Linked DNA regions of Homo sapiens: all the other regions are reported to be linked to region 1. Evidence: microRNA targets listed by miRTarBase, many of them from high-throughput screens and not tested one by one. Region 1 holds a microRNA gene; each other region holds the end of a gene's coding sequence. Distances are from middle to middle.
Evidence for each region. The annotated mature microRNA hsa-miR-3973 reads ACAAAGUACAGCAUUAGCCUUAG and lies in region 1 at 2,210-2,232, shown strand. An mRNA with a match to its seed (bases 2 to 7 or 8) in the 3' UTR can be bound and repressed. Matches are read on the target gene's strand: a 7mer-m8 pairs with bases 2 to 8, a 7mer-A1 pairs with bases 2 to 7 and ends in A, and an 8mer does both.

Region 1 (5,260 bases):
CAGACACTCAGTTTACTCCACGTGACCTCTGGTGGACTGTTCAGCCTACCTGAGTGGCCTCTTCTCCTTTGTGGAAGGGAGCAAATGAGTCTTTTGATTAAAGTTGTTATAAATATTAGATGCTTGTAAAGGCTCCGGCACATGGAGAATACCCAATAAATGGTAGTTATCATTAGGGCCATTTTTATGTGAGGAGGGCATATTATTTGTCATTTGTAAAGAACACTTGGGGACGCAAACCAGGCAGAATGGGTAAACAAATTGGGTAAAATCCTATATTTTTTCAAAAAGCCATTTGAATGTGCACCTGAGGCCTGAAAATGTGGATTAGATACAGATTGTGCTTTGATGAGAGTGCAGTTGTACCTCAAGGAAAGCCTCCTCCATCCCAACTCCAGGGTTCATGGAAGACGGTAGCATTCCTATTTGGTGTTGGGACCTCTTCAAGGCTTGAGAAAATATAAGGAGGAATTTAGAATCTGGGGAGAGGGATCCTTTCTCCCAGGAGTTTGTTGGGGTCAAGAAATGTAACTTTAAATGCTCCTATTGCAAGATTGGGTTTGTCGATACACAGGCAATTCTTTGGGTGTTCCAGTCCTATGGGGTGAGAAAGAATGAATATATATATTTTTTATCTGTCTCTGTATGTGCCTGTGTCAATTCCTAGTAAATATTTATGGGCTGGCAAGTTGCAACTGGGAAAGGCCCATGTTTAACTGGCTAAATATTAATAAGCATATTCAAGAGAACTGAGGTCTTTGTTTTGTCTTCTTAAGAAATGAATCCGCTCTTATTCACTGTGTATTCACAGGAAACTGTGCTGTTCAGGGAAGAAGTACTGCCTTGTTTTCCTTGTAGGCTTTCCAGCTTGGATTTCGATTTCCACTGAGGCCTTATTTTTAAAAACATGTTTTTACAGCAGCATTACAACTGTGGAGATTATAGCAGTCTCCTACAGCTTTGGTTATGAAAATAATATATATCGTCTTTTTATTCCCTTTAATTGACCATTCTCTTACCTTCCTTTGTCTCCACATGGAGACACGGCTAGATATCTCCCTCCTTTGTATTTTTTTCTCTCTTCTCCAACACTCTGAGATCAAGGCCCAAGTAAGTACACACCTTCACTTTTATCCTGGTTTCCTGGTATCCAGTGAAATGGATTTCATACTGCTGAAATGTCCATCCTTTCCCCAACTCATATCTGTGGCTACTTCTACCTTTCTCTTCCTGGAACTTTCCTGAAGAGTTAATTTCCTTATCTTGGCAGTGCTTCCCAGGAAACTCCCTTTTTTGCTCTGAGACAGACCTTTTAATAGTATTAAATCAAATGCTTCCAAACCATAGTTTAGACCCCCTGCTCTGGGAGCAGTCATCATAGGCAGGGCTTTGACGAACTCCCTTTGCAGGATCTGGTTGTCTATCCTGGTCACCTGGATTTACAAAAGGCTAAGAATAGCATTGGAGAAGACAGTCCTGTATTATTTTTCACTTACATACCTGAAAAATTAGTTTCTATCCGAATAGAAATGGATTTCCACCCAGCCAGAGGTTTATGCTGAAAGATGTAAAGTGGAATTGGGAAGATAAAATTAGACTCTTTAGGAAAGAATGGGTTTCCCACCTCCACTATAATCACTGTCATGCACCCTTATAAGTGGATTGGGTGTTGCTGAAATGCAAATGCCATTCGTTCTGTTGCTGATTTGCTTACCGAAAGTTGCAGAAATTCAATCCATGCAGAAAATTCTATGAGTCACTTCATTTCCTGCAACATTTTTTTTCCATTATTCATATTATGGAAAAGAGCACATCAAAAAGGCAGGTCTGCAAATAACACAGTTTTCAAAAAGATTGTTTTATTTTTCTTACGAAGAAGTTTTCCAGAAATCTGTAACCAGTATCAGGAATTCTCCAGCTTTGTATACATAGCCACTCATGATCGGATTCTACTCCTTGCTTTTATCTTGCTTGTTGTCTTTGGGGTTTTGAAGATTTGAAGGAAACTGGTCAGAATTATTGACAAAGTGCTCAGGCCTCAAAAAATACTATCAGAATAAGGGACTGAAGAGTATAACCTACTTTATTGTGTTTGTGTCTGGAGTATCTGAGTGTTAAAATTTGAAGCCCAGGGTAGCTCTCTGTATTGCTTGTTACATTTTAGGATTGCTTGCCCCTTGCTCCAATGGTGCAGGCAGAAGAAATGCAAACAAAGTACAGCATTAGCCTTAGCAAAACATATAACTAGGACAGTGGATCTGCTGCCAAAAATACCATCTGCTGTTTTCCAAAGCCAGAGATGGATGACTTGAGTTGTCTCTGCCTTCAGCAAATAGTCAAGAGACTAAATAGATTTATTTACTTTAAGTTTGCCCAGCCCTTCATAATATTTCTTATTAGAAGAAGAATATATTTTGGAATTAGTGAAGATAGACCCAACTCTTTGATTCCCAAATGGATGCCTAAAAATTTCCAATAGCTTCCAAATTGGATTTTCTTATTACTTTTCTTTCCCATCTCTTTCTACATAGGGCTGCCAGGTTAACCTACCTGAAGCATTACTCATCTCATGTCACTCCCTTGCTCAAAAACGGATGATGTTGGCTTCTCCTTGTGTATAAAGTTAAGTCCAAGTTCTATAGTCTGGCACTTAAAGCTTTTCCCACCCTTATATCCTCCTCTCCATGACCATTTGCTTTCATGCCTCCATTTAGCTCAGCGTTTCATTTGGAATAGAGGTCTGCATCATACCCAACCTGCAAAGCAGCCTGGGTGGAAATTATTCCATGCAGCATTCCATGATGCTTCCCCTGGAATAAATTTCCCCCTCCTTAGAAATTCTTTTTTTTTTGAAATGGAGTTTCGCTCTTGTTGCCTAGGCTGGAGTGTGATGGTGCGATCTTGGCTCACTGCAACCTCTGCTTCCGAGATTCAAGCAATTCTCCTGCCTCAGCCTCCTGAGTAGCTGGGATTGCAGGCATGCACCACCAAGCCTGGCTGATTTTGTATTTTTAGTAGAGGTGGGGTTTCTCCATGTTGGTCAGGCTGGTCTCGAACTCCTAACCTCAGGTGATCTGCCTGCCTTGGCCTCCCAAAGTGCTGCAATTACAGGCGTGAGCCACCGCACCCAGCCCCTCTTAGTAATTCTTACATTCCATTTCTTACTTTCTTCTGTGGCATTTATGACTTCCAACTTTTATAATTATAAAATAATTTTAATTTTATAGCTCTTTAGGTGCACACTTCTTCTCTCCTGCTCAATAGTAGGTTTTTGATGTGCTCAAGTCTTGTATTCCCTGCAACCTTGAGTATAGTAGGTGTCTAATGCTTTCTTTTTGGGTAAATGAATGAATCAGTTAGTTGAATGAGTGCTTACTACAAAACAGAGCATGCGATAGGCAGCGGGTATCTATTAAATATAAATATCTTGTTCCATGGCCCCAATCAGTGAAAAATGTCATTGTTGAGGAGGTCACTGGCTAGGAATTTTAGAAGTGAGAACACAGTGGTCATTGCTGTAGTCTAGATTTGGGTGGTCCTTCAACACTTCAGATGTATAATTAATTTGGGATTTGTGTATCAAAAGTTCTGCTACCTCAATAATACTGATATTATAACCTTTGAAAGGGTGGAGAGAGAACCATAAGCAATTGTAACTTATGTATTCTTCATCAACAGGTCTATTCTGCTATTTTGGGGACATAGCAGAGGTCAGTTGGAAAGAGATTTAGCGAGCCAGTTAGAGCCTGATTTGCATGCTAGTTCTCATTACCTGGCTTGTCATCTTGAACCTCAATTTCCTCATCTGGAAAATGGGTATAAGTAGCTACCCGATGCAGTGTGGATTAAATGACAAACAGAAAGCACCAGTGCAGGCTCTAACACATAGTGGGTGCTCCACGAATGCAGGCATCACGTCTAAGGGAAGTCTGAGTGGCGGCCTGTCACCAGCATCATGACTGTTTGACTTCATAGTCTAACTGCATGACTGTGGGGAAGAAGGCAGGTACGGTCATAGAAGTTTGCTATTTTCTTCGAAAGTGATTTCTTACTATTGATTTTAATCAGTTTAGATTGTTGTTCTTCTATATTCTAAAGTCTCTAGGGGTTAGGAATTCTGATTAATATATTCTATAGTAGTCTCCCCTTATCTTCGGGGGGTACATTTCAAGACCCCCAGTGGATGCCTGAAACCGAATATAGTACCAAATTGCTGTCAACTGAAACCTATTTCTGTCCATGTGTTCCACCTACAAATTTAATGCCTTTCCATCCTAACTAAGCACTTATCACACACTCTGGCTATAACTTTTGCAGTTTGAGGTGTGACAGCAAAACTAGCACAAATTCTTTTTCCTTCTTCACAATTTCACAGATAGAAAATTTTTTCTCACTGTACATCTTAGCAACCTCAGCATAAGTTTTTTTTCCTTTCCTTACTAAGTCGAGAACTTTCACCTTTTCACTTAAAGGAAGCACTTTACAGCTTCTCTTTGGCATACCTGAATTACCAGCATCACTCTTCTTGTGCTTTGGGGCCATTATTAAATAAAATTGGTTACTGAAACACAAACATTGCAAGACAGAGGCAGTTGATCTGATAACTGAGACCGTTCTTAAGTGACTAATAGGCAGATAGTGTAGACAGTGTGTGTATGCTGGACAAAGGGAAGATTCATATCCTGGGCAGGACAGAGCAGGACGACACGAGATTTCATCACACCGCTCAGAATTGGACCACAATTCAGAACTTATGAATGGTTTATTTTTGGAATTTTCCATTAATATTTTCAGAAGTCCATTGACTGAGGGTAACTGAAACTGCAAAAAACGAAACTGCAGAAAAGGGAGGACTATTGTATTTCAAGATGTGAACTTCTGGGAATTTTAAAACTGGAAAAAAGCTGGATGGAAAAGTTGAAAAGAAAAAAGTCAGATGTTTGGGAGCAGAGGTTGGAAATTTATGCAGTTTCAATTCTATTTCCATTATACTTCTAAAGTTACCGTTAATTTTGAAATATAAAAAATGTCCATTTTGTATAAATCAGCTTGCCCAAAGGTATTATATTTGGTATATTTAGAGATAGAAATGCTGTTCCTTATTTGTACAGGCAACCTGAGAAATATTTTGTTTTCCAAATATCGCTGAGTGTTCTTATCTCTTGTCCTTTGAGCAGTACTGAGGATAATGCCTGATTCATAAGGGCAGTTGGGTAATAATACATTTTTTTCTGAAATTGTGTGCTTATTAGCAGGGCTT
Region 2 (5,260 bases), not on the chromosome of region 1:
TTAACAAAACACATGGAGACCCCTTGCACTCAAACCCTATGTCTGCTCCTCTACTTTCTCCCCAAATCTTTGGTGGAAAGGATATGTGAATCCCGAAAAGCTCTCAGTGACCATCAATTCAAGGTGACAGGCTGACCACATGCTTACAGCCTATTTCTACTGAGACTTGAATACTGATAAGGGAATAAAAAAGGGTTTAACACAATGACAAAGAGGTAGAGTGAGATAGCAAAAGATACTTCAAAAAGCTGCCTGGAAGATAAAAAAAAAACAAACAAAAACAAATTAGGCCAGGGGTGGTGGCTCACGCCTGTAATCCCAGCACTTTGGGAGGATCACTTGAGGTCAGGAGTTCAAGACCAGCCTGCCCAACATGGCGAAACCCCGTCTCTACTAAAAATACAAAAATTAGCTGGGCATGGCGGCGCACCTGTAGTACCAGCTACTCGGGAAGCTGAGACAGGAGAATCACTTGAACCCTGGAGGCAGAGGTTGCAGTGAGCCAAGATGGCGCCACTGCACTCCAGCCTGGGCGACAGAGCAAGACTCTGTCAAAAAAAAAAAAAAAAAAAAAAGATTAAGAAACAGAAAAATTAGCAAAATTAAATAAGGCTTAAATTTATTATTACTGTTGTTGTTTTGAAATGGAGTCTCACTCTGTCACCCAGGCTGGAGTGTTACCTCTGCCTCCCAGGTTCGGGTCATTCTTCTGCCTCAGCCTACCGAGTAGCTGGGATTGCAGGCACCCACCACCACACCTGGCTAATTTTTGTATTTTTAGTAGAGACTAAAAATTGTCTTGCCATGTTGGCCAGGCTGCTCTTGAACTCCTGACCTCAGGTGATCTGCCTGCCTCGGCCTCCCAAAGTTCTAGAATTGTAGGTGTGAGCCACCATACCTGGCCAGAAGATTTAAATAGCCACAGAGAAAGATTAAGTGAGACCTTGTCTCAAAGAAAACAAAAACAAAAACAAGAAAAACTAGGAGTGAGCTACTTTACCCAAAAGAACGCTTCAGAGGTTTGAAACTCAGAAGGCACCACCAAAGTTGTGAAAGGAGCAGGGCTGAACACAGAACTGGTTTAAAGCATGTAAACAGAGAATTGTTTGTTTTAGGTTCCCTCTGCCATATTATATGCAACCAGAGCCATCACTTCTCAGCTGTGTGCAAACATGAAGAAGCTTCCTAACACCTCTAACCATCAGTTTCCTCATTTGTAATGATATTACGAAAATGCCTACTCCATAGGATTATCGTGAGGATTGAGTGAATCAATACATATTAAGCACATAGAAAAGTACCTAGCACATGGTAAGCATGCAATAAAACTTGTTGTTTTAAGCCTTTGATGCGATTTGCCTTATAATTAATTATGGTGTCTATACTACCTTGAGAAACACTAATTTAAGTCAAATCACCTCTGGGGACACATGAATGAGGAAGACATAATGGCACTTTCATCTTGTGAGCACAGCTCCATGACGTATCACAGTGACACGGGCTTAGTCTCAAAGCAAGACTAACAATCATAAGGGTCATAGGTAAATACTAAAGACAGTAAAAGTGGTGGGAAAAAGGAACTAGGTGTGGGAGAGGTGCCTTGGAGCGCTTAATGTCATTCTGTGAGTACAGTAGCTACACATTGCTTACCTTTGAATAAACGAGAACCCGATTACAATAAGAAGTAAAACATATGAACAGACTGAAATAAAACACAATAATCCATAAATATCACATAAGAAATGTTATCCAGAAATCACAGTTTGTGCTATCTGAAAACCATTTATTGCAACGACAAAACTAGAGGTTAATTACTTTTTATTATTGAATTATATTGTAAAGTCTACATCTACAATTTAATCAGGAAGAAATGCTTTGCATTTACATCAAGGACACATTTATTCTAATGGAATAAAACAGACACACACAAAAGACCAAGTACATGTTTTTAAAAAATGACTACATGTTTCACCTGGTCCTATTTTTGCTATTTGGACCATACTTTTAAGTGAATTGATCTTACATACATGTTAAGTCTGATTTATCTCCCCACATTTTTAAACACTAAATGAAGCTTCTCACAATTTCTAATTATAAACAAAAGGCTGAAAACAGTATGGGAAACAAAGTTTCAAAACAAAGAAAAGTTGAGTAAAAGGTGCCCCCTCTATGGCTCATCTGAAAGAAACATTTTACTCAGAGAGGCAAACATTTCTGATCTAGGAGTAAGTTTCCCACTCACTTTGCAAGGACCCACTCATTCTGCAGAAAGACCTACAAGTCTTTCTGGTCTCAATTGCAAAGTACGTGAAAATGTGTATGAAAGATCTAAAAGCTAAATATTAGAATAAGGCTAATTGAAATCAAAATTGTGTGCTGGTCTAAATATACATCTTCGGCTTCTTCCTTTTTAGTAAGTATTTTTATTTCAGATGTATTTAAAAATAACTTACATTTTTAGTGTGCTTTATGGTCAATGACTGTAAAGTTGAAACTCAAATGAGTCAGTTTAAAATTTTTGTCTCATTTGATTCTATTGAAATTTTAATCACCTACTACTTTAATCAAGTTATTCATGAGGTAAGTTTCAGCTTAAAAAAAAAAATCATCCACAAAGATAACCATTTCAAGAGTACACAAAATCATAATGCCGGCCGGGTGCAGTGGATCACACCTGTAATCCCAGCACTTTGGGAAGCTGAGGTGGGCTGATCACTTGAGGTCAGGGGTTCGAGACCAGCCTGGCCAACATGGTGAAACCCCGTCTCTGCCGAGGCAGGAAAATTGCTTGAACCTGGGAGGCAGAGGTTGCATCGAGCCCAGATCGTGCCACTGCACTACAGTCTGGGTGACAAGAGTGAGACTCCATCTCATAAAAAATAAAAAAATAAAAAATAATCATAATGCCCACCTCTTAAGAGTATACAACTTTATTAACTACTGCTTATGATGTAATATAAAAGCAAGTACTTTTTGTACTTTTTTATTTTTTTTGAGATGGAGTCTTGCTCTGTCGCCAGGCTACAGTGCAGTGACGTAATCTCTGCTCACTGCAACCTCTGCCTCCTGGGTTCAAACGATTCTCCTGCCTCAGTCTCCCTAGTAGACAGGACTACAGGCGCACATCATCACGCCCAGCTAATTTTTTTGTATTTTTAGTAGAGACGGGGTTTCACCATGTTGGCCAGGATGGTCTTGATCTCTTGACCTCGTGATCCACCCGCCCTGGCCTCCCAAAGTGCTGGGATTACAGGCGTAAGCCACCGCGCCTGGCCCTTTTTGTACTTTCTAATCAAATTATGCTGGGAAATATAGGGCAAAAAAAGCTCGGCAAAATTTGTTTCTGGTAACAAGACAATGCAATAATGAATCCAAATGAAACATAAGACCAGTGTTTACAATTTCTAACTTCTAAACAAACATACACACACTTATCTAAAACATATTTTGGTAGCAAACTGGATGACTGAATAAATGTTTTGCTGTAAATAAAAAATACAAATTTCCAATTATAGCCTTATAGCTAGCTAAACAGCTTTTCAAAACATGTACAGCTAGCCAACAATTCTCTAAAATATGTATGTTACACTAAAAGATCTCTGCTAAAAATCTACTGTATGTAAATGGGTCTTACTGAAATAGGACTTTCATGATACTGTGTCTTAAAAAGTGAGTATGATAGGGCTACAACAACATTACTATTAATAAAGGTTACAGAAGAGATTATTGCTGTACTTTTCCTCATAAACACCATCAAACTTTGTTGCAGTTACAAAAAGTACAACCAAGTTACTTTTCCTCTTACTGAATTTCATTATGTTTCACATATTTGCAGTTTTTATTCAGCAGAGAATAATTCTTAAAATCTTTTCTGTAAGAATTCTAAGTATTTAAATGTGTAGCTTCACATTATACTACCATGTTTCACCCTTCGTTTCCCAAATACACAAAAAACATATACATTTTTTCAAAAATGAAATAAGATGCCCACATTAAAAAAATAAAGCCTACAAAAAGTTCCAGAGCTAAAAAAGATTATTCATATGGCACAAAGTGATCTCCTACTAGTCCAAAGTTCAAAAACATTTTAATGAAGTCCATTTATATATATTTTGTTTGCTTTTCAATGAAATACTACATTTATTGAGGCGAAATCACATTATTTTTAGTTCTTGGAGTCAACAAGTGTACACAAATGTTTTTCAACAGTTATTGAAAATAGGAGACCAAGTTGAACGTGCCAAAGAGATACCATTCAGTTGGATTTTCTAGGGTCAACATGAAGAAAATTAGAGAAGGGATTTACTTGGTTGGTTTCCATAGCTTGATAGACCAAAAACAAAAAAACTGCCACAACAACAAACAGCAAAATTTTTATCCATACGGGAATGGAGCGTCCCTTTTTTGTCTTTTCTGACTTGACATCTGCCAAGGGAACATACTTAGGAACATATTTAGATGAAAAAGACTCCTCCATCCTGAAATCACTGAGTTCTAATGGCCGGCCTGCAGCCCCTTTGATTGGTCTGCGGCAACTAGCACTGTTGGGAGTGAAAGGAGGAAAAGAAAAATAATTTTAGATAAAGGCATGATTTAGAGAAATAACATAAAATGTCATTGCCACTCCTAATTCCAAGCACATTCCCTGAGGTAACAGTAGAAAATTGATACATATAAAGCAGTGAGGTCAGTCAACCTATTTAAAACTTCTACATATTTTCTATTTTAAAAGTTAGATGGGCTGGGCATGGTGGCTCGCGCCTGCAATCCCAGCACTTTGGGAGGCCAAGGCGGGCAGATCACCTGAGGTCAGGAGTTCAAGACTAGCCTGGCCAACATGGTGAAACTCTGTCTCTACAAAAATACAAAAATTAGCCGGGCATGATGGTGGGTGCCTGTAATCCCAGCTACTCAGGAGGCTGAGGCAGGAGAATCGCTTGAACCCAGGAGGTGGAGGTTGTAGTGAGCCGAGATCACGCCACTGTACTCCAGCCTGGGCAACAGAGCAAAACTCCGTCTCAAAAAAAAAAAAAAAGTTCGATGCATCCTTTATTAGAAAAGAATATTCAGAACACTGATAAATAGTCACTAAACCTGCCTTCTTAAAGGCTCTTCAAAGCTCATGTTTAGGAGTAAAGAGGAAAAACAAAACAGTTTTGGCTGTGTTTCTTTCAGTTAAAAATTAAGATACATAAACACAGCCTTTTCAATTAGAAAAGAGAAACTTAGGGGGGAAAAACTATTTCTCACTAGATTTTCG
Region 3 (5,260 bases), not on the chromosome of region 1:
GTGCTCCTGGTCCTTTCTCTTTCTCCACATGGCAACTCATTCTCTAAGGCCTATCCATGTGGCTTCAGCTTCTCACAGTCTGCTGGTCTCAGAGTAGTTGTACTTCTTACATGGAAGCTCATTTCTAAGAGAAAAGATGGAGGAACTCCTAGCCAGTACTGCATGTGGAACTTGTACCACATTGCATTGCTTCCTCCACATTCACAGGTCAAGAGCTCACCCACATCCAAGAGGGTGGAGAAATAGACCCCCCCATTAATGGGGGAGCAACAGAGGCACATTGCAGAAGGGCACATGGAGTGGGAGATATTGCTGCAGCCACCTTTGGAAAATACAATATGCTATAAATGAGGAGGCCATTCTGGTAATTCAGACAAGGGATGATGGTGGTCTCATCTAGAGGTTTGCTCTGGAGATGAGAAAGGGGTAGATTCAGAATATATGAACAGAATATATGGAAACAGCAAAGCAGTAACAAATGCATCTGAGTATTTATTAATTGTAGTTTATAAGATTACATGGATGAATATTGCCCACCACCAATGGAGAAAGTCACAGCTATATCTAATCTATTTGTAGGACAAATGGATCATTGTCATGTTTCAGAATATGCTTTGTTTTAAAGCATCAGTTGTGTAGGGCAAGGAGTTAATGAGGCCTGGATAGGGCTATACAGTGAGGTTAAAGTATGGACCTGTAGACTCTGAGATCCAGGAATTGCTGTGTCCTCTAACCAAGGGTGCTTTAGAAAGTAAAGGGGGGGGAAGGGGTCTAGCCACAATACATTTTCAAACGCTTCATGGAAACAAGTGCATTTGATGACAGAAAGCCTTGAGCAGTTTTCAGTTCACACATGTGGTTACTTGAGGAGATAAAAGTTTTAAGGTATGAGAGCCAATGTACCGAAGTGGGTGTATGAGAAAGGGTTTTTGGGGTGACAAAAATGCTGAAAGCTATTTTCCTACTTTAACATGAGGGAGTGAAACAGAAACTTGCCCAGAGTCACCTAGTGAATTCATGGCAGAGCTGGTGCTAAAAGACATGATTCCATGGGATTCTTTCCACTGTATCACCTGCCATTCTGCCCAGAGCATAGCTTTGCTCTGTACTGTGGTCATACTGAACCACTGCTATTGCTCAACTGACTTTCAAGTAGTGCCAGAAGGCTGCAAGAAGAGGTTGTGAACAAACCAAGTCTGTTCCCTCTGTTGGAAAACATAACTCTAAAATATGCTTTGCTAATTTTGACTCAGTTGCATCTCTTTGTGGAGCAGACAACACATATGTTCATATGAAAAAATAGTCATAGTGAGACTACTTGCTGTGCTGCTCAATGTCCCATAGAGTATTTCTTAAAATTCGTGGAATGCCTAAGATTCTGAGATCACTCTCTCAGTTCTAAAATCTCTACCAAAAAATAGCTCAAGACCACCAGGATCTTTTGGATTGAAAAGCAAGAACAACCCAAGGTCTTTACTGTGCATGGGAAGGTACATATATATTATAATGAATATTTCTATATGTAACTTCTATTTCATATATGCAGATGCATAATTTTTGGTTTGTTTTCTCAATATTTAAAGTGGGCAGAGCTCCATTCTGGATGTAGGTAAAACTTACGTGTTCTAAATATCATAATTTTATTCTCCACTACTTTTAATTTCTTCAGGTTTTTCTATAGCTAAACAAAAGACATAATTTGCTTGTATTCATCTTCTTTATTAATTGAACACACTTATTGTAAATGGAATTGGCACTTTCAATCACCCTCATTATATTTACTAGGATGAAATTAATAACCCAAAGATTCAGTGTTTTCCCATACTAGGTTCTGTTTCACATTTGAGCTTATTTGGACAAATACTACTTCCCTGCACACTGAAAGGATCTGTAAAATATTGCTCCTTGATCTCTGCATAAGAAGCAATTTGTTGGACTCCAGTGTTGGAGAGCAATACTTCAGGGTTGATGCTTGGGAATGTGTAAATCTTGCCTATGGATTTAGATGTCTGTTCAACAAGATTGCACCACAAAAGCCTCACACCTTTATTATGTTTCACACGTTACATTGCACTGACAAGTTTAACTGCATCCACGACTGGGCCAGCTGATGTTTAAATTCTCAAATACCTTAACATTTGAATGTCTCAGGCAAGAAACCTGACTATTCAGAAGGCACAAGCTGTAATATTTCAGGCAAGTCAAAATCAGAAGTGAAGGCTTTTGGCCATAGATTTTACTAGTGCATTTATATTAACCTCTATGCATTTCCATAAGGCTTTAAAACCATTTCTTAGGCAGTATTTTTCTGTGGGTCTTCATTAAAGTATGGATCTTATTTAATCTACTTGGAAAAATCCCTTCAGGATCCCAGGAGCTGTCCTCCTCCATTCCTTTTAAAAGCACTTTCTCTTCTGCCTAAAAACTCAAGTACTCTCTTAACTAAGTGCGGACTGAAATATTTCACTATGGATTTGAACAGGAGCCAACAGTGATGATGAAAGGAAAACTTCTCCCTATAAAAGGTTTATTGTCAGCGCTTTCTAAAGATGAAGATGCTTCTGAAACAGACTACTGACATTTTCACAAACATTGACACAGCCTTCTCAACCTCTCCTAGACCTATGATTTGGGTCCCTTTCTTTTAGGAATGCTCTGGACCTTTGACCTTCTGAATAGCCAACTCTATATAACTGCTCCCTCCCCCATCAATATAACGTATATTATAAAAAGGAAAGGGGGATGGGGTAGCTTGGCCCTCACGCTATTGGAAAAGTAGTTGAAATTCCTTGCATTCCTTTGCATTTAACAGCATGTTTACCTAATCACCGGCTTATTAGGATTAACACAAGTCATGCTTCAAGCTCATTTAGTGAAAACAAACTGACTCCTATAGACTCAGATTTTTCCTCATAACAGCCAAGGGTAAATTTCTAAGTAGTTCTAATTTTTAGGAACGGTATTGGGAAAATATAAAGTTATAAACAAGCAAGTCTTTAGAATACATTAATTATATTCAATCTTGCCCATGGGTCTGGATGTGGGCAGCCTGAGTTATGGACTACCCCTTTTCATTAAAGGGTTTCTCTACTCTACTAAAGTGGCATGCCCACTAACCTGGTGATTAAAATAATAAATTATTATAGCCATCTCACAGAGTGATGGAGACCCTTAGGCTTTATATTCTGATGAACATGAAGCGCTGTTTTCTTAAATCACAAATTTAGCTTCAGAATCTTTATTGTGCTTCATACAATGTCGTGTTCAATACATGTTTTTTAAACATTACTTTATATGCAAAGACTTTTCTCTACTGAAGGTATAAAAGCAATCATTATCTTATTTTAATAGCTTAATTCACTGCTGTATCCCAATAAGTCCTGTTTGAATAATTGAGTACGTGAGCTAGGTTGTTCCTAATGACTTTGGAGCACCTCTAAAAATACCGAATGGCATACACTCAGATATTAGGTAAATATTTCTTTATTAAATGGTTAATTCCATAAATAAAATCTTTTCACTGAATATAAAATTAAAATCATTTACAAATTATTCCAGTATTACATTTCCCCTCCCTCCCCAAAAGCTACATTTTGATAAATAAAACATTCAGTCTTAAAACACCTGATTTCTGTTTGCAGTTTAGAGTGCAGATAGCTGCCTCTCACAGACACTCATGGAGTGTCCCCCTTCAGGAAGGGATGGAATGCCCTCCCATTTACTTTTGTCAAAGGACGAATAAAAGCTTTAAACTGTCCAACTAATCTTATTATCTCTTTTACGACTGTAGAACCCCAAAAGGAAAAAAGCCTAGAGAAAATATGCTTAGCAAATAATTTACAAACAGAAAACAGAAAGTCATCAACTCCACAAGCTCCAAAATGAAGCAGTAACATGTGCTCCAATACTATGAAGCAAAGTATTCTCCAATCGTGGCTGCATTAGTGTCCATCCGCACCAGCACCCTTGGCAGTTTCGAAATACCTTAATGCTCCTCAAGAATGAGCAAGGCTTCCTTTCTACAATGAGTCCCATCACCCACACCACCCCCGCCCATTTTCTCCATGATTCTGATTCTGACACTCTTCTCCCTTGTTTGTCTAGGTGTGCCCTGGAAACCCAGGTAGCATTTAGTCCCTAAATTTGTGAATGTCATTGAACAGCCTGTAGAAGGGAAACGCTGCTTCATTGGCATGCGGGCAGTTGTAGTTGCATTTGCAGGACTGGATCATCATGACGTTCTTGGAAAATGTCTCCCCATCTTCGCAGCGGAACCGCATCTTCACAGTCCTGGTCAGCTGGGGCGTGCAGCATCGGCCGTCCACGCAGGAACCGCAGTACTTGGGCCGGTATTTCTTCACACTCAAACATCCAGCGTAAGTAAACCTGACTGGTTCGGGGGATTTCTTGGTCTTGCTGCATTTCTTGCCCTTCTGTAAGAGAAAGGAGAGAAGGAAAGTTAGGGGTGATATTTCTCTTTCTTCAAAAAGATGTTCACATCCCACCCACCTGCCAGGCAACAGTCTACACGTCCCTGAAGGAACTTACTTTCAGGCTGCTGTACACTGGCTGTCCACAAGGCCGCACCTCACAAATCCGGGTTTCTTTCACAAGGCGGCACTCAGGGTTGTCATTGGTAACTCGTGTGGAGATACCAGTTCCACAGGTCTTTGAGCACTGGGACCATGAAGTTGTTTGAACAATACATTTCTGGCCTTGTAAAGGGTTGTATAGGATGCGAGGCTCCATTCCAAAAACTAGAGACATATAAGAGGGAAGACTTCTCAGAGGCATACCGACACAAACAGGCTCAAGCACTCATTTCTACAAAGATTTAGACCAGAAATGCATCTCAGTACAGTGTCTGAAGTGCTCAGTCTCCACTTACCAGGGAGCCGCTTCAGTGAGCTGCCTTTTCCAACTGCAATCAATTCATTGTTTCTCGTCAACTCCACCTCGGAGGCATCGAATCCCAGCTCCTTGCCAAGGAGGCCGTCCTGGTCCTCCATGGGGTCCTTGATACTATCCTCGTCACAGACCCACTCCTCGCAGCACTGCCCGGTAACTTTGACCAGCCGAGGGTTGGGACAGCCCAAGTTGGGGAGAGATAGTTCTTGGGGACACAGAGGAATGCAGCCCACGGCGCCATCAATACATGTGCACTGATGTTTACAGTTGGGCTGGAAACTTTCCCCGTTTTGGTAGATTCTGGAGTTATATTCACAGGGTCTGCCCTCTGACTGAGCTGCAAAGATCACCA
Region 4 (5,260 bases), not on the chromosome of region 1:
ACCAGGACCTCACCTGTACCCTCTCATCCAGACTGTGGGCACTGGGAGGCAGGTCTCATTTCTGCCTCCCCTCAACATCTGGCATGCGGGAAGTTCAAGGGTGAGTGGATGGGGAAGGACAGTTGGATTAATGTATGGAGGTGTGTTCACAAAGCTCTAAAACCCAGGAGAGCCTCTCTGCCAGCACAAATGAGTCAGGTGTCATACTTCTGTGCTCTAGCAGCCAACCTGAAGACTATTTTTGAAATGGAGTATCTCCCACCAGAAATGCATTGTGCAAAACTCTGCTCAAAGGCATCAGTCATGTAGGGCCTTCCATCTTGTTGATTCAAGAGAATGCCTACCTACCCACTCTGCTCCCACCTCCCCAGTGTCATCCTCTCTTCCCCTTGCAGAATGACTGGTCTCACCTTGTCCCACACTGCCTGCTCCCATCTCCCTGCTTTCTTTCCTATTTTTCATGGCCTCAAATGAGAACTTTCTCCTGTGCATCCAAATCAGATCATGTCTCTTGCCACTGCTGGTGTTACAGTAATCCTCCCTTATCCATGGGGCAAACGTTCTTAGACCCCCAGTGGATGCCTGAAACCGCAAACCCTATCTACACCAAGTTTGTTGCTATATATACATAATTAAAGTTCATAATTTAGGGAGTAAGATATTAATAATTATACTGTAGTAGGCTGCATGAACTCTTTTCCTCTGAATACGTACATGTATTCACATTCTTGATGGGAGATAAAATGCCTATGTGGAAGGGAGAGGGAGGTAAATGACGTAGGCATGGTGACGTGTTAGGCTACTATTGACCTTCTGATGACACTTCAAGAGGATCATCACTTTTGGGTGATCCCAGACCATTTAGCCATGATAATTTTCCAGACTGCAGTTGACCGACAGCAACTGAAACTAGATAGGTGGGGACTGCTGTATGTCTCCTGGAAGCCTTCCAAGACCCAGCCTCCCTGCACTGATCTTCTTGGCTCTCAATTTCTATCACGTCACAGTCATACACTATCTGCTACTTCACAGAAAGGAACAGAAGCCAGATCATGGGATCGTCATTAACTACCTCAGAGCTTTCAAGACAGAACAGCTTCTTTATCCCCAACTTGCAGAACAGGGACACAGCAGGTGGTCAGTAAATTGGGAATTTGGCTAGCCATCTAACACTTGTTCAATAAACCCATGGCAACTGGCACCCTGCTGGCAGTCATGAGTTTTATATACCATTATATGCACAGTGCAAAGTAGCTTAATACTGGAGTGCCTGAAAAAATGCAGTGTTTTGGAGTCAGATGACTGCATTCCAATCCCATCCCCACCACTTCATGGGTGAGACACTGGTAAGATGCTTAACTGCTCTACACCCTTTCCAGCGTGGGTCCAGGAAGACATGCTTCTTGGAGTTAACATGCAGATTAGGCCGGGCACGGTGGCTCACACCTGTAATCCCAGCACTTTGGGAGGCCAAGGCAGGCGGATCACAAGGTCAGGAGATCGAGACCATCCTGGCTAACATGGTGAAACCCCATCTCTACTAAAAATACAAAAAATTACCCGGGCATGGTGGCGGGCACCTGTAGTCCCAGCTACTTGGGAGGCTGAGGCAGGAGAATGGCGTGAACCCGTGAGGCAGAGCTTGCAGTGAGCCAAGATTCTGCCACTGCACTCCAGCCTGGGTGACAGTGAGACTCCATCTCAAAAAAAATATGTGTGTATGTGTGTGCGCGCGCAGATTAATGGAGATCGTTGTTCAGAGTTTAGGACAGCACCTGTTTCGGCTCCATGAGAGCACCATGTAAGATGCTGTCTTTAAGGGCAGCCTAAAATAAGCAACTTGCCAGGGAAGAAAGGAAGAGTGCAGAGTTGAAAGCTGCCTGATTACATAGGCACATCCAGCTACAAACAGAACTCATGGTTGTGGTGCTAGGAAAAGCTAAAAAGCAGCACCCCAAATATTCACTGCAGGTACCTTCCCAGAACCACCTCTAGCTGAGTTTCTCATCACTCTTCAAAGATCCCTGCTCTCTCTAAGCCACAGCTTCCCATCAGTGACAAGCTGAAGGAAGGGATGTGCTCCCTCAATATTGATTCAGCTTAGTAAAGTCAAGTTTGCATTTTATGGAGGCTCTTCCAAAGCCTGCTGACAGCACAGGGTAGCCTGGTTACTGTGAGGGCCTACAATGTGCTGAATCTGTCCACAGTTTGAGTTCCCACAAGTCCCTGCTTCCTGACAAACAATTGCTTAGCACTAGTTTCCAAACTGTTTTCACAGTTGTTACATCCTCAGCCTCAAAATAGCCTTGTGAGCCAGGGTAGCTAGCAGATACCCTTGGGAGCCCAATTTAAAAGACAAATTAACCCTAACAAGGTACCAGGTGACTTCCCCAAAAAACACTTGGATGGACTAGATGGAAGAGAAGCAGGCAGCAGGGACAGAAGACCAGAGGGCAGGTAGAGGAGGGTGTTAGCTGGCCGTAGGAGCAAAGGCTGTGGAGACCAGAGAATACCTGTCCCAACAGATGCAGCCAGCCTGGAGCCCTGCCAATTGTTATCAAACAGGAAGGTGGGCTACTACTGCTGCTTCTGGTATTTCAAGAGGCTGGAAATCCAGACCTTTACGTAAAATTTGCCAAGTTTCCAAATGTTATGCCTAACAAGGCTCACAGCAAGACTGCCACATTTTCTATAATATCACAACCCAAGTGGATCCTCTGGAAAAATAGGCCAAGCCTGAGTTTCATCCCACCTCCCTTCCCAAGGCTACTGGCTGAAAGACTACAACTTCTGCCCTGAGCACAGCTGAACAGAAAAGCCTCCCCACTTCGTGACTTTGATGCCAACCTTCAATCATTCAGGCTCTCTGCAGCTATGCCCTTTTTCTTCACATCAGAAACTATTTCCTACCCTTCAGTTCTCAATTGCTTCCTTCCACTCTCCCTGCATCAACTTAGCAACCACCCCCAGCTCCACGTCCTGTCCCATCCCATCCCATCCCATCCCTGCAGCACTGTCAGGATCCTCACCACCTTGCCTCTGCAAGCTGCTCACAGGGTGCCTTCTCTGCTTCCACACTCCAGCTCAGTCACAGGAAACTGCATCTCAAACCCCAACCTTTGCTGCCCCTAGCATTACCTTCAGCCTGGTATGCACTGTTCATCAAAAAATGTCAAATCACATCAAAGACCCCATTCTTCCACACGTTCTGTACTAGTAAGCCATTTCCTGGTCCTAGCAAAGTAGTAGCAGATTCCTTAGCAAGAGAACCTACAGGGCCAGAGGCCCCACAAACCGAAGTACACAGCCTCTGTAGATATGAAAACAGAACTCCAACCACCCCCTGGCCAGCAGGCCCAGCCCCATGACTTAACTCTTCTCAGCCCTGCCCTCCTGTCTGTAGGTGCTCCATGCAGGGGCTGTGACCATCTTTTCTCCAAAACATTCCACTACCCTTCCTTCCTGCAACCTCAACCCTTCTGCCTTCACGGTATTGCTTTTCCTGAGTCCCCTTCATGCCCAACCAAGTCTTTCAGCTCTCTACTGCTTCCTGAGATTTCTCCAGTTTATCCAGACATGGTACTTTTTAGACTCTAAGCCAGACGTGGTCGCTCATGCCAGTACTTTATGTGGCCAAGGTAGGAGGATCGCTTGAGCCCGAGTTCAATCAAGACCAGCCTAGGTAACAAAGCTAGACCCTGTCTCGAAAAAAAAAACACCTCACTGTAGCCTCGAGCTCCTGGGCTTAAGTGTAATCATCCCACCCAAACCTCCCAAAAGTGCTGATGACTGTGAGCCACTACACTGCGTCCACCGCGGACATGGTTCTTAACACAGCATTTACAAGCTTGACTCCCAGATGAACCCACCTAAGCTATAAACCAAGCAGCAAACAAACACCACCCCATGACATTAAGTTTTCACTGAATGCTTCATGGAGCATGTGAACTTGGACAGCAACTGAAATCAGCAGACTAACCTCCTAGCAGTCCCAGGAAACTGCAAATACATTTCAAACAACCAGACACATGAAGTTTTTAGTTTATTAATGTTCTTGCGAAAAATCCACAGTGGCCACAGCTAACATCATTGCAGCACCTTTACTCCTTCGGCTGTGAATCAAGAGAAAGAAGTTTAGTCAACAACTGCCTTTAAAATTCTTTAAAGTCTTCAATTCCAAAAGTAGTAACACTCATGCACAACAATTATTAGTAACCTAGAATATCAAGTTATTTTGATGTTATCATAACACAATGAAAGCATCAAGAAATAAAATTTACAAACATTCAAGTTAAGAATAAAACAAAAATAATGGGCTAAATATTGCTAAACCTTAAAAACAAAACCATGTCACTGTTAGTATTTTAAAAGGTTACAACTCTTCAGAATATTTGTAAATCTACTTCTAGATGTACTACACATGATCTGCTTTTAAATTGCTACGTCAGTACACCAAGGAGTCTAGTGATCTACATGACTACATGAAAAGCTTGAATTATACCTGTGATCCAATCTCCAGCTCACTGAATCAGTGGCGGGGAAGGGAAAAAGAGAAAGGAGGGAAAAGAAAGATTTCATTAATAGTCCCTTTTCAAACTCCAAAATAATCTGCATTTAAGTGCATGCAATCAGGTACCTTAAAGATGACCATTTTGTTCTTTGCAATTGTATACAGAGCACTCCTTCCAGACTCACTGATTTTATTCCTCCCAATTCTGACAATGCCTTGCCTGATTACTGTAGTTCTTATGCAAACGAGGTAGCCGGACTTCACAATGAAGAGATCATTAAGCCAATGTGGTACCCAGGATGGCCTTGCCCACTTGTCAATGAAGTACATACCTGAGCCTCTGCCCCTCTGCTCTGCCCAGCAACATTGTGCTGGACACACACCAGGAACAGTTACGAGAATCATTACAGATTCAAGTCTAATTTAACCTCAATGGGAGTGCTCTAAATGATCAGGCAAGTCTTTTAAAAGCTGCCTCAGTTCAATAAAAGATACCATTCACAGCCACAAAAGTAGTACAAGTTAGTATTTAAAAAGAGGCATTAATTTAGCTGAACTAAAAATACAATTGCTCCTCAGATATGAGACTACTAATGCCTTAGTATAAGTAACTTAGTATATAACTCCATCGCAACCAAAAAGCAAGAACAAATACCAATTCTAACATCTAAACAAAACTGAATTAAAAGCAATATTGCTATGGCATTTCTTTGGAGCCAAAGAATTTATGTACTCAAATGCATTGATTTT
Region 5 (5,260 bases), 2.7 Mb from region 1:
GTGATGGGGATAGTAATAGGTAGTACTAGCAGCAGTAATAGCAGTGTTTATATTATAATAATATGTAGTAATAAATACTAAAATGTTAATACTAATATATATGGAATTGATATTTTTCTCTCCTCTAGTTATTCTTAGTATAAGTTAGTTCTGAGAGATCCACTATGAGTTATCAATCACAAAGGGTATATTGTAATTTCCCTTTCTTTCTTTCCTTTTATCTTTTAAGGTATGTTATTCAGTCATTTTTTTTTTTTCTTTGTGGATAGGTTCAGCACTTTGGATCTGGGCATCAAGAGTGGAATGGAAACTTTGGGCACAGAAGACAGCAAGCTTATATTCCTACTAGTGTTACCAGTAATCCATTCACTCTTTCTCATGGAAGTCCCAATCACACAGCAGTGCATGCCCACCTGGCTGGAAATACACACCTCGGAGGACAGCCTACTCTACTTCCATACCCATCATCAGCCACCCTCAGTAGTGCTGCACCAGTGGCCCACCTGTTAGCCTCTCCGTGTACCTCAAGACCTATGTTACAGCATCCAACTTATAATATCTCCCATCCCAGTGGCATAGTTCACCAAGTCCCAGTGGGCTTAAATCCCCGTCTGTTACCATCCCCAACCATTCATCAGACTCAGTACAAACCAATCTTCCCACCACATTCTTACATTGCAGCATCACCTGCATATACTGGATTTCCACTGAGTCCAACAAAACTCAGCCAGTATCCATATATGTGAAAAACAGTATATTGGGGAAGCTCAATGATACAAACATTTGATTAAAAATAAAAACATGGTATTTAATATTAGCCATGGCACAAGAAAATTATTTTTGAATCATGTAGACTTGGGTGCAATTTAAACAACTTTGAGCTTTAAAAACTCACTTTTGATGTGTTTTGCACATTTGGTATAACTTGTCTTTGGTCATGTTATCTTCTTATGTAGTAACTCTAGACAGGTGACTTATGGGAGCAGAAGTCCAGTTTTGCTCCTGCTATTTTTTATAAATTGCCTTCTAACTAGTGCAAGACACGTCTACATTTGGGAAGCCATTCTGTGTACAGACTTAGAGCAACAGATGCACATATGTCAGAATTACAGCATACAAGTGAATTGTATTATCCGTGTCTTAGTGTATAAATGTTGGGTCACTTACCTAAGAAATTGAGCTATTGTTCTTTACATTTGCATGTGTCTTTTGCATGGGCAAAATGTTGCCTAGACTTTGCTCTTAAATGTTGTTCTAATAATCTCAGCTGCATTGTAAACCGTTCCTACACATAGTGCCTTAAATATTTGAGGTTGTTAATGTTATTACCTATATATAAATGTTGAGGACTGCAGCACTTAAAATTCAGACCTACTATTTAGTTTCCTTTTGATAGCGTAATGTTCATTTTTGTTTTTGTGTGGTATGATTTCAGGTAGTAGCTGTTTTTTTCCTTATTAAGAGGGCAGCATGTTTGCTATAGCTGAATTCTGCTGTCTGATTTTTCAGAATGATCTAGCTTCAAGAAAAGCAAGCAGTTAGTAGTGCTTAAGAAAAATTGATTCAGTATCTAATGGATAGTTGATAACTGTCACAGCACAGCATTTTATATACTGTTAAGTGAAACTGCAATACAATCTAAGTTTATTTTGAGAGTGTTTGCTGTATAATTGGACTTAATAAAATGTTTAGAGGTACAGTAGGCATGACTTTGGGTAGATAATAAAATGCAAAATGCTCATTGATTCATGATGTGGTTTTATCTTAGCTTGGGCAAACCATGCAGTATTTAATAAATAGTAGCAGAACTTTTACTATTGAAGCTTGAAAAGATGTGAGTTCTTTGTGTGCAATTTTTGATTTATGCATGTGAGAGGGTTTTTTTTTTTTTTAAGTATTTTTACATTGCAGTACTTGTTTTGCTTGTTGGTGATGTTTGCTTATTTAATACATTCCGTCAGGGACAGAAATTACATGCTTTTTTTTCTTTCTAGGAAGTGTGTTGAGTTCCCCCCTTCCCCGACATTTTTTTCTTTTTTGGGTGGTGGTGATGGTAGTGGTTATGTCTGTTTAAATGAAGTTGCTTTTACAGCACCAAAGACTTAATCATCCATTTCCTATATAAAGGTAGCTACTTTTTGCATAGACCTCAAGTATATTGTAGTGTAAAGGTGGAATTTAAGGAAAGGTATTAAATTGAGGCTGTGTTTTAGCTTACAGGCAAGTAATAAATTGTATCATTTATCTTGAATGTATCATAGATAAGCTGCTATATAACGATTGCCACTTCAGATAGCTGTGAAATTAGGTGATTAACTAGTTGTTATTTAGCCTTCTAATTTCTGTATAAGTCTAATTACATGAATAGAAATTGGGGTTTTGATTTTTTACTTTGCTTTTCTGTTTGGAGTGTCATTGTAACTACTGTATTGTAAATGGTGGAAAATAATTGCATTTGTTACTTTGGGGTGTGTTATTTGCATCAGTATTTTATCTCTATTAATGTTTGTGCTCATCACTGCATATTAAAAAAACTTGGATGTATCAGTGTAACTTAATTTTTTATTTTCATACTGGCATTGTAGACACTTGAGAAAGCTGTATCTTGCAGGCTTGACTTAACTTTTTTCCTTAAAAATCTGGAATATAATCTTACAGCATTTACTGGAATAAACAGTACAAAGCATTGGAGTGTAAAACTCTAGATGTTTTGGATTTACAGCGTTTCTTTGATAAATGAATTGTATACCACTAGTACAGCTCTAGTACAGCGTTCACAATAAGCTAATAATGGATAAGTTTTCTTCACTCCATTAACACAAGCAGTGTTTTATTTAATAATCATCAATGAAATAAATGTGCCTGAAATTGATTTTAAAAATTACAGTATTAGATCATAAAGTAAAAACCAGCAGTACATTTTTAGTCACACTGAAAATGAAGGACTTAATTTTCCCCACAAGTTTCAGTGTTTTTAGTAATTAATTCTATGCATTTTATACAAATAGAAATATATATATATAAAAAATTAAATGTTTAAAAAGGAGTAGCCTAAGATTAATTTAAAAGATTATTTACAGATGACACATTTATGGGGTCACTATTTAAGTAAATTTGCTGCCCTCCACAGCCTTCTAATTTTATTTATATGTTCCAGCAGATTATTAGGATCTGCTTACTTCTTAGGAAAGAATCAATGCTGGCAACACATTGTTTCAGAAACACCAAGTGCAAAGGATTGATTGTATCACAACAGGTACAAAACTGACAGAGTTTTCTTTTTGTTTAGGGCCATGTTTACTACCCTGAAATGTTGTATTTTTTGTCTTTAATTTCCAAGACTTAAAGCAGTCTTGTTAAATTGACATAAATGGTAAACTTCAACATTTTCATAATACAGTATTAATGTTTGATAAAGGTATATCCCAGTTAACTACACTGCTCTTTAATTGCAATCATGGGCATTTTAATGTATTTTAAAATAAATTTCAAAATTCTGCTAAATTCTTAATTTAGCATATTGACAAAGTAATCTGGATTTATACCTTTTAAAAACCATTTTGACCAGTTTTCTTCGGTTTTAATGCTTTCTTAAATAAAACACTGCATGATTTCCAAGTTGCATATTTGCATACTATTTTAATTTGCAAAATGTTTTTTAAATCAAATATCCTGATATTTAGTTGTTTTTTTTTTCCTCCAGCGTGTTTAATTAAATATGTTACTGTATTAGCAAAACATTTTCATTTTTAAAATCTGCTAATTTTAAACTTGGACTGTGTTAAGTAAAAGTTAAATCATACACTGCAAGGTGTAGGAAGATTTGTTTTAATGAATCCAATGATACAGATTTGATTACTAAGTTTGAACTGTTAATTGTTTAACAATTTTAGACTTGTGGCTTTCTTTCTTTGGTTTATTTGTTTTTGCTTTTACTCCTATGCTACACTAGTTTGCCATGTAGCAATTGCACTGTGCAATATTACAATAAGGACTGGGAAAATTTTATGGATGTAATGTCTATTACGGTTTGCGATAGTATTTCTCTCTAGTTCTCAGTGATTTAAATGTGACCAAGCCTTCTGTACTTTGTCACAAAAAGCGGGTTTTCCAGGTGACTATTTTGGTGAGTGTCAAAATAAGAATTTATGGTGTATTACTGTCGATTCACTTTGAATTAAAATATATATATTGCAGCAAACAGCTTGTTGACTTTTTTTCCACCCCAATACTCCTTACAGGGTAGGGAAGGGAGAGGTTAACAATATTGAGTATCTATTAATAACTTACATCATCTTATTTAACTCTCAAAGCCACCTTGTGAGATAGGTATTATTATCTTTGTTACACAAATGAGGGCATAGCTGCAGAATGTTTAGGGAACTTGCACAAAGTCACATTGTCAATGAGTTGGAATCTGAGATACACACCAGGATATCAAACCATAACTAATCTACTTTCTATCAGTTCTTTTAAAACCGAAGTCTGAGGCAGTGTACCCGGACTACCTGCAACCATAAGATGACCCTGTCCCATTTTCCTTCAATATTAAGTTTCCGCAAATATTTTTTGAGAGAAATAATTTCTGTTCAATATGTGTGGATGAATAGGGAATTCACATGTATCTTTAATACTTAAAACATATGACTTCGAAAGAATGTGATTGTAGTAGGCCAGCTTACATCCTAAAATACCAACACCTCATAATTCAAGGATCTAACTTTCAAGGAACCTCAGTTGGAAAGTTTCTAGGGGAGCACTCCCCCAGAACACAATAGTGAGAATACGTATTTTCAATTTCTGCCTTCCCCTATCAATGTTTAATTGAAGTATAACATATATGCATTCTTTGGCATCTGGCTATTTTTTGTTAAACATTTATAAGATACATCCATGTTGTGTGTAGTTCATTTATACTCATTGCTGTATAGTAATCCTTTGTGTGTATACAGAACTATTTTGTTGATGGACATTTGACATCTGAATAGTTTCTACCTCCTGGCTATTATGAATAGGGCTGCCATGAATGTTTTGTCCATATCTCTTGGTGAACATATGCATGCATTTCCTTTGGGTATATATGTAGACGTGCATTACTAGGACATAGGGTGTATACAGATACTGCCAAACACTATTCCAAAGTAGTTAATGTACACTTATTAGCAATGTATGAGAGTTCTAGTTGCTTTATGTCCTCACTAACACATTATTTTTTGTTTCTTTTGTTTTAGTCATTCTTTTGAGGGTGAGTTTTTCAAAA
Region 6 (5,260 bases), not on the chromosome of region 1:
GCAGGCTGCACATGCACAAAAGGCCTGGGGAGGGCCTAGGCGCCAGGTGTCTCAGTGCAGCAGCCCTGCCTTCCTCCGTCTATGACGTGTGCCCTGGAGGCTGGGCGCCAGTTATGGGGCACTCAGAGTGTGCCAGGAGCCGTGCTGAGCCCTCAGCATCCATCCTTCTCGTCTTCCCCACCTCTGATGTGTATATAGTATGTCTACTCTAATATTAGATAGATAGAATTCTATATCACACATTATCCTCTCATTACACGTATGTGATAATCGTCCTCCTAGAGATGAGCAGACAGGCTCTGAAAGAAGGCGTGACATACCCAGTCATGCAGCTGGGATCCAAACCCAGGCTGCCTGGCTTCAAAGCCCACAGCCGTCCACTGCACCTGCCTTCCCTGCCCCGTGGGGAGCGAACAGAGGGTCTGTGGTCGATGGGGAGGGGCCCCCCAGCTGCCTTCTGTGCTTCTGTTGGCTCATCTGTGTTTCTCCTCCTCCAGGATACTCCAAGCGGGCCTGGACGTGGAGCGTCTCTCCCTCAGGAATTTCTTCCATCATTTCCATTCCAAGCGAGGCATGTGGAGCCGTCGCCAGATGAAGACGCTGTAGCCGGAGGGTGTCCGCGGGGCCCAGCACTCCCCGCTCTGGACTAGCAGTGGCTCCCCAGGGCCCTGCTACTGTTCAGGGATGGGGAGTGGGGTGACGGCTGGACCCCAAGAGGCCTCGAAGCTGACGGCCCACTCCACCTGGAGCTGTCCCCTCACAGAGGCAGGTTCCGGGGCTCCTGTCTCTGCCTCCTGGGCCTTCAGAAGGGAGGACTTTGAGAGAGAGGCCAGGAGGGACCACTTGCTCAGTCGAGAACGGGAAGAGCTCCTGAGAAGGACGGGTCAGGAAGGAGAGATCTGACTGAGCGACACCATCCTCATCCATGAAGGTGCACGCCCACATCCCCCAAGCGCTCCTCACGCCAAGCGCTGACCACCAGACCCTCTTCTAGTGGACATATTTTATTGGGGGGCGGGGATTTTAAAAACAGAAAACCGAAACTGCTGTCCAGAGCGGGGGTGAGGTTGTGCACTGAGGGACTGTCCCCACGTGCAGGCCTCCCGCCCACTCCTATGTCCCTTGGGCGTTGTCCCTGGCCGCGGGACTGGTCCCACGTGGGGCAGGTCTCTGCTCCACCCCAGGCTCGTGCCTTCCAGAGACACACATCTCCCAGTAGCCACCAAACAGCTGGCCACTGATTAGGGCATTAACTTCCTCCGGATGGCTCACGTCAGACCAGAAGCACAGAACGGGCTGTTTCTGGTGCTTGGGCATTGGGAGGTGGGGAGCTGGCGGGCAGGGGGCTTGCCACTCCCTGGCACTGGACATTGAGGCCTGCAGAACAGGCAGGGTGATGAAGGCAGGGGAGAGAAGCCCTTTCCCTTACCGGCGTGCCTGTGGGTAAGGCCTCCCGAGAGGACATGGAGAAGAGGTAAAGAGGATGTGGACATATCTGTCAATTTCCTTAGGCAAGAAGCGGGTGGGGGCTGGACAGAAAGGGACGAAAAGGGAAGTGGAAGCTGTGAGCCTCACAGTCCAGCTCCACTGCAGACCTGCCCTTCTGCAGGGAGAGCCCTGGCCACCCGGCCTTGAGTGGAAGAAGAGGAAAGGGTGTACGGGGGCAAAACCCTGGACAGGGAGCAGGATAAGAAGGGGGCGGGATGAGAGGTTTGGGGAGGTGAGGACATTGCCCTGAGATATCCCCTGGAGGCAGGGAGAGGAGTGGGGGCAGGAGGAACTGAAGAGGGGGGCAGTTTCAGGGAAAATAGCCCTTAGCCTTTTTAGTCGATGCCACCCTTTCTGTCACCTGGAGACCTTGTACTTCTCTTGCACTAATAACCCCGGTGCTTTTGTGGCTGGGGGTTTTTCTGTTGCTGCTGCTGCCTCCACCACTGCTGTGAATTCACCCATGGTGCATTGGACACTGGATCTTGAACTCCAGAGTCTGTTTAGGGAGGTGAGCACAGGGCTGGGGGAGGTGCGGCGGGGCCCAGAAGACCAGGCCACTGAGCCCGCGCTCCAGGCTGTGACGGTCCAAACCACGGCACTGGAGCTGCAGGGTCTGCCTAGTGGGCTCTGCATTCCCCGAGAGCACGAGTTTGGCACATGGGAGAATGGAGCCCGTGGAGAACCTTCTGGGGGGTCGGGGAGAATCCCTGCCTCCCTTTAAGGAATCATGAAGGACAGAGACTTTTGAGATTGTGGCTTAGGAAGGCCATACCTGCTCCCTGGGCTGTGGCTTTTTCTGGTCCCTGCTGAGGCCGACTGGCCCCTGGAGAAGGATGGTGGGGCATAGGCTAGGGCTGCAGTTGGCCAGTGGGGCTGCCAGTTTCTTTCTGGGACCACTCTCGTCCTCGGGCATTGCACTGGAAGGCTGGAACCAGCCCAAACTGCCCACCTGCTTCACTTCCAATGACTAGGAGCCAGCCCAGCCTCCTGCCCTGCCCACACCCCTGCGCCCTGGGCCAGTGCCTTGCGTTTGATGTTACCTCCACACCATCTGCCTTAAGAGGAAGGGCCGGGCAAGGCCCCTACTCCCTAGAGAAATGTCTTGGGTAGGAGAGGGTGTGGGATGGTGGGAGGGGAAGCATTAAATACAGCAACTTCTTAGAAAAAAAAAAAGGTGCTTGTCTTTTCCTGTTGCTCTTCACGGATGTAAAGGATTGGGCTGAGGGGCCCAGGTGGGCGTGCCAAGGACCCTCCCACACCACCCTCCACCCTTACCACAAGTGTGATGCCTGCTGTGTGTGAGATGGCCTTCTCTGCACTGCGGTTTACTCAGGAAGAAGACAACATTGTTCCTGTCTGAGCAGCTCACCGTGTAATAGACTAGGCATTTTCTGTTCAGCAGATTAATGGAGGTTGGTGGTTTTAGCCGAGGAAAGCTATGGATACGCTGGGTGGAGAAGGCTAGATATAGGGCCAGAACGGTTTGGTGAGCAGTGGAGAGAAGCCAACGAGTGGCTGCTTCTAAACTGGCAGACCTTCTAAAAATCATTTCTGTTTCTGAGTTGGCAATGCTTTGCTAATGCTTTACAGATTTACCTTCCTCGTTATATTTGGCCCAGGCAAAGATCAAAATGAGTTTGCAGTCCTTAAACACATGCCTAAGGGAAGCTGAGACTGAAAGCCAGAATAGCTTACAGCAGGTTCGTGGAGAAGATTGTGCATATGTGCATCCACCTGCAATGGACTAATCTACAGTTCATGGGGCAGATGACGATAAGCGCAAGACATCTGGGCCAGGAACATTGGCTCCGAGCAGAACCCACAGAGGAGGAAGTAATTTAAAAGCCTTCCCACCCTCCAGGTCTGGGGTTTGCTCTCTTGAGCCCTCTCCAAGGCACAGATGGAGACCAGCCTGGATGCCTGAGCCTGCAGGACTAGACAAGTAAGTGGACTCAAGAGTGGATTTGAAGAAACCTTTATAGATATAGATTCCATTTTACAAGAAGGGAAAATTGAGGCCTGGAGCAGAAGGAAGCAGTGGGGTAGAGTCAGAACCAGCATCCTTAAGCCGGGCAGACTTGGCCTTAGACAGACATGCCTTACTTAGGTCCAGCAGATGCTACCAGGAAGGTATGGCTGGCAGTACCTGCGTCTGAGCTCAGGACTTCAGACCAAGATGGAAGTCCCTTAGACCAATAACATAAAAATCACTTTTTAACTCAGGTGCTGTGGGTAGGGAGCAAGGGCAGCTATACTGTCCTTTCAGAAGCTCTCCTGGGCTGTGGAAAGTGCCCACGAGCCTGGCAGATCACGGAGGAAGGAGGCAGAAGTTCCAGGCCCAGAACCTGTTGAGGAAGCAGAGAAGAGGCAATGAGGATGGCAGGCCAGATCAATGCCCCTCAACCTTCAGCATGCCCAGGATGCACCTGGCCACGTTACTCATGCACGTGCCTGTAGCACGTGCTCGAGCAGAGCCTGAGATTCTGCATTTCCAGCAAGTTCCTGGGTGGTTTGTGGATGCTGCTGACCCATGGACCACAGTCAGTAGCAAGAGCTGCTAGACAATGGCAGGGAGAAATTCCCCATCTCCACCTTTCCTCTTGCCGGAGGGGCAGAGTCAACCACTAATGGCATCGCCTCCACCCTGTCCCAGACCGTGGGAAAACCTGAGCCTGAGAGCAGAGAGCCATTAACACAGCAGTGGGGCTTTGTGCAAGCCTCGCTGAGGCCAGGCTCTTGCAGATCCTCTCCTTGCTCTCGGAGCTACAGGCCTTCCCCCTTTGTTTGGCAAGGGATCTGTTTCTTGCCCCAAAGCCCCAGAGGAGAGAGAAGGGCCACCTGGGGAGTCCCTGGAGCTGGGGTTCCTCCATCCTCCCTCACCTGGGTCCCAGGCTGCATTCAGAGAGGATTCCTTGAGGCCCTGGCAGCCAGGAACCCTGTTTTATGTGCCCCGAAGGCTGTAATGAAAACATTGATGACCACAGTGAAGAAGACCAAGATGGTGGCTGCGTTGTTGAGCTGGTTGAGTCGCCACTGCTTTTCTACCTCATTCAGGTTCAGCCGTGCTGCAGGGAAGTGGAGTGGGGGGAAAGGGTCAGAGACGGGGCCACAGCACGGAGCTGCCCCCACAACACCCACCAGAGTTTGGAGAGAGGGGCCCTTCAGAAACCCATGTGGCAGAAATCAAGGGAGGTGGTCGTCATCGGGCTGAGATGCCTCTGCCCTCGCCAACCAGTACAATGGGGCACCCTAGTGTGCTTCATCCCACCAGGATTTGGGAACTTAAGCTGGGTCCTGTAAGCGTGGGGACGAGTGCTCATGGAGAAGCGGTGAGCGAGTGAGTGAGTTAGCAGTTAGCGAGGTGCTGGCGCAGTCATTCAGCAGGTACTGCGGAGGGTCTGCTCCATGGGATACCAGGAGACAGGACAGGGCGCCTGCCCTCGCGGGGTGGAAGTTGGTCTTTGGGCCTCTGTTAGCGGAGGGCTCACTGCAGGTCAGCGTGTGGTTGCAAAGCTGCCTGTGCCAATGCAGGGTGGCCCAGGGGACACGTGGGGCCTTTCTGCCAGCCACGGGTGCCGAGGCAGAAGGTCTGACTGCAGGCTGGGCTCCTCACCAATGACCACGAGCAGGACACCGATGACCACCTGCAGGAGCAGAGAGAGGCTGATGAGGGTGACCAGGGTGGTGTAGTAGTGAGAGGATGGTCCCTGCTCCAGCACCGCCTTCAGCCGCATGGCGTTGGACATGAACAGGGCCACGTCCAGCATGC

Region 2: the mRNA of TMPO is a reported target of hsa-miR-3973. Seed matches in the 3' UTR shown: 7mer-m8 at 2,300-2,306.
Region 3: miRTarBase lists CCN1 as a target of hsa-miR-3973. Seed matches in the 3' UTR shown: 7mer-m8 at 3,916-3,922.
Region 4: the mRNA of RPS24 is a reported target of hsa-miR-3973. The part of its 3' UTR that is shown has no 7-base or 8-base seed match.
Region 5: miRTarBase lists HIPK3 as a target of hsa-miR-3973. Seed matches in the 3' UTR shown: 7mer-A1 at 874-880, 7mer-m8 at 2,389-2,395, 7mer-m8 at 2,460-2,466, 7mer-m8 at 4,086-4,092 and 7mer-A1 at 4,170-4,176.
Region 6: the mRNA of B4GALNT3 is a reported target of hsa-miR-3973. Seed matches in the 3' UTR shown: 7mer-A1 at 815-821.

What each region holds. Positions count from the first base shown.
Region 1 is chr11:36,007,972-36,013,231 of GRCh38, forward strand. It overlaps MIR3973 (microRNA 3973), which reads left to right and starts at 2,127; the gene lies at 2,127-2,233. All of the region lies in intron 1 of LDLRAD3 (low density lipoprotein receptor class A domain containing 3), which reads left to right.
Region 2 is chr12:98,546,854-98,552,113 of GRCh38, reverse strand. It overlaps TMPO (thymopoietin), which reads right to left. Exons shown (of 9, transcript NM_001032283.3): 9 at 1,763-4,541. The coding sequence ends at 4,256. Among named protein-coding and RNA genes, the nearest start is that of TMPO-AS1, 33 kb to the right of the region's middle.
Region 3 is chr1:85,581,913-85,587,172 of GRCh38, reverse strand. CCN1 (cellular communication network factor 1) reads right to left here. Exons shown (of 5, transcript NM_001554.5): 3 at 4,889-5,245; 4 at 4,549-4,757; 5 at 3,223-4,433. The coding sequence ends at 4,131. Among named protein-coding and RNA genes, the nearest start is that of CCN1, 3.8 kb to the right of the region's middle. RefSeq lists an enhancer at 4,754-5,260.
Region 4 is chr10:78,039,467-78,044,726 of GRCh38, reverse strand. It overlaps RPS24 (ribosomal protein S24), which reads right to left. Exons shown (of 6, transcript NM_033022.4): 5 at 4,502-4,523; 6 at 4,030-4,112. The coding sequence ends at 4,521. Among named protein-coding and RNA genes, the nearest start is that of RPS24, 8.2 kb to the right of the region's middle. RefSeq lists enhancers at 1,987-2,096, 3,377-3,426, 3,495-3,996, 4,317-4,826, 4,827-5,260.
Region 5 is chr11:33,352,823-33,358,082 of GRCh38, forward strand. HIPK3 (homeodomain interacting protein kinase 3) reads left to right here. Exons shown (of 17, transcript NM_005734.5): 17 at 270-4,201. The coding sequence ends at 746. Among named protein-coding and RNA genes, the nearest start is that of KIAA1549L, 21 kb to the right of the region's middle.
Region 6 is chr12:560,846-566,105 of GRCh38, forward strand. It overlaps B4GALNT3 (beta-1,4-N-acetyl-galactosaminyltransferase 3), which reads left to right. Exons shown (of 20, transcript NM_173593.4): 20 at 498-2,664. The coding sequence ends at 606. It overlaps NINJ2 (ninjurin 2), which reads right to left. Exons shown (of 4, transcript NM_016533.6): 2 at 5,105-5,260; 3 at 4,372-4,556; 4 at 3,451-3,836. The coding sequence ends at 4,390. Among named protein-coding and RNA genes, the nearest start is that of NINJ2-AS1, 67 kb to the right of the region's middle. RefSeq lists enhancers at 1,904-2,405, 4,570-5,071, 5,072-5,260.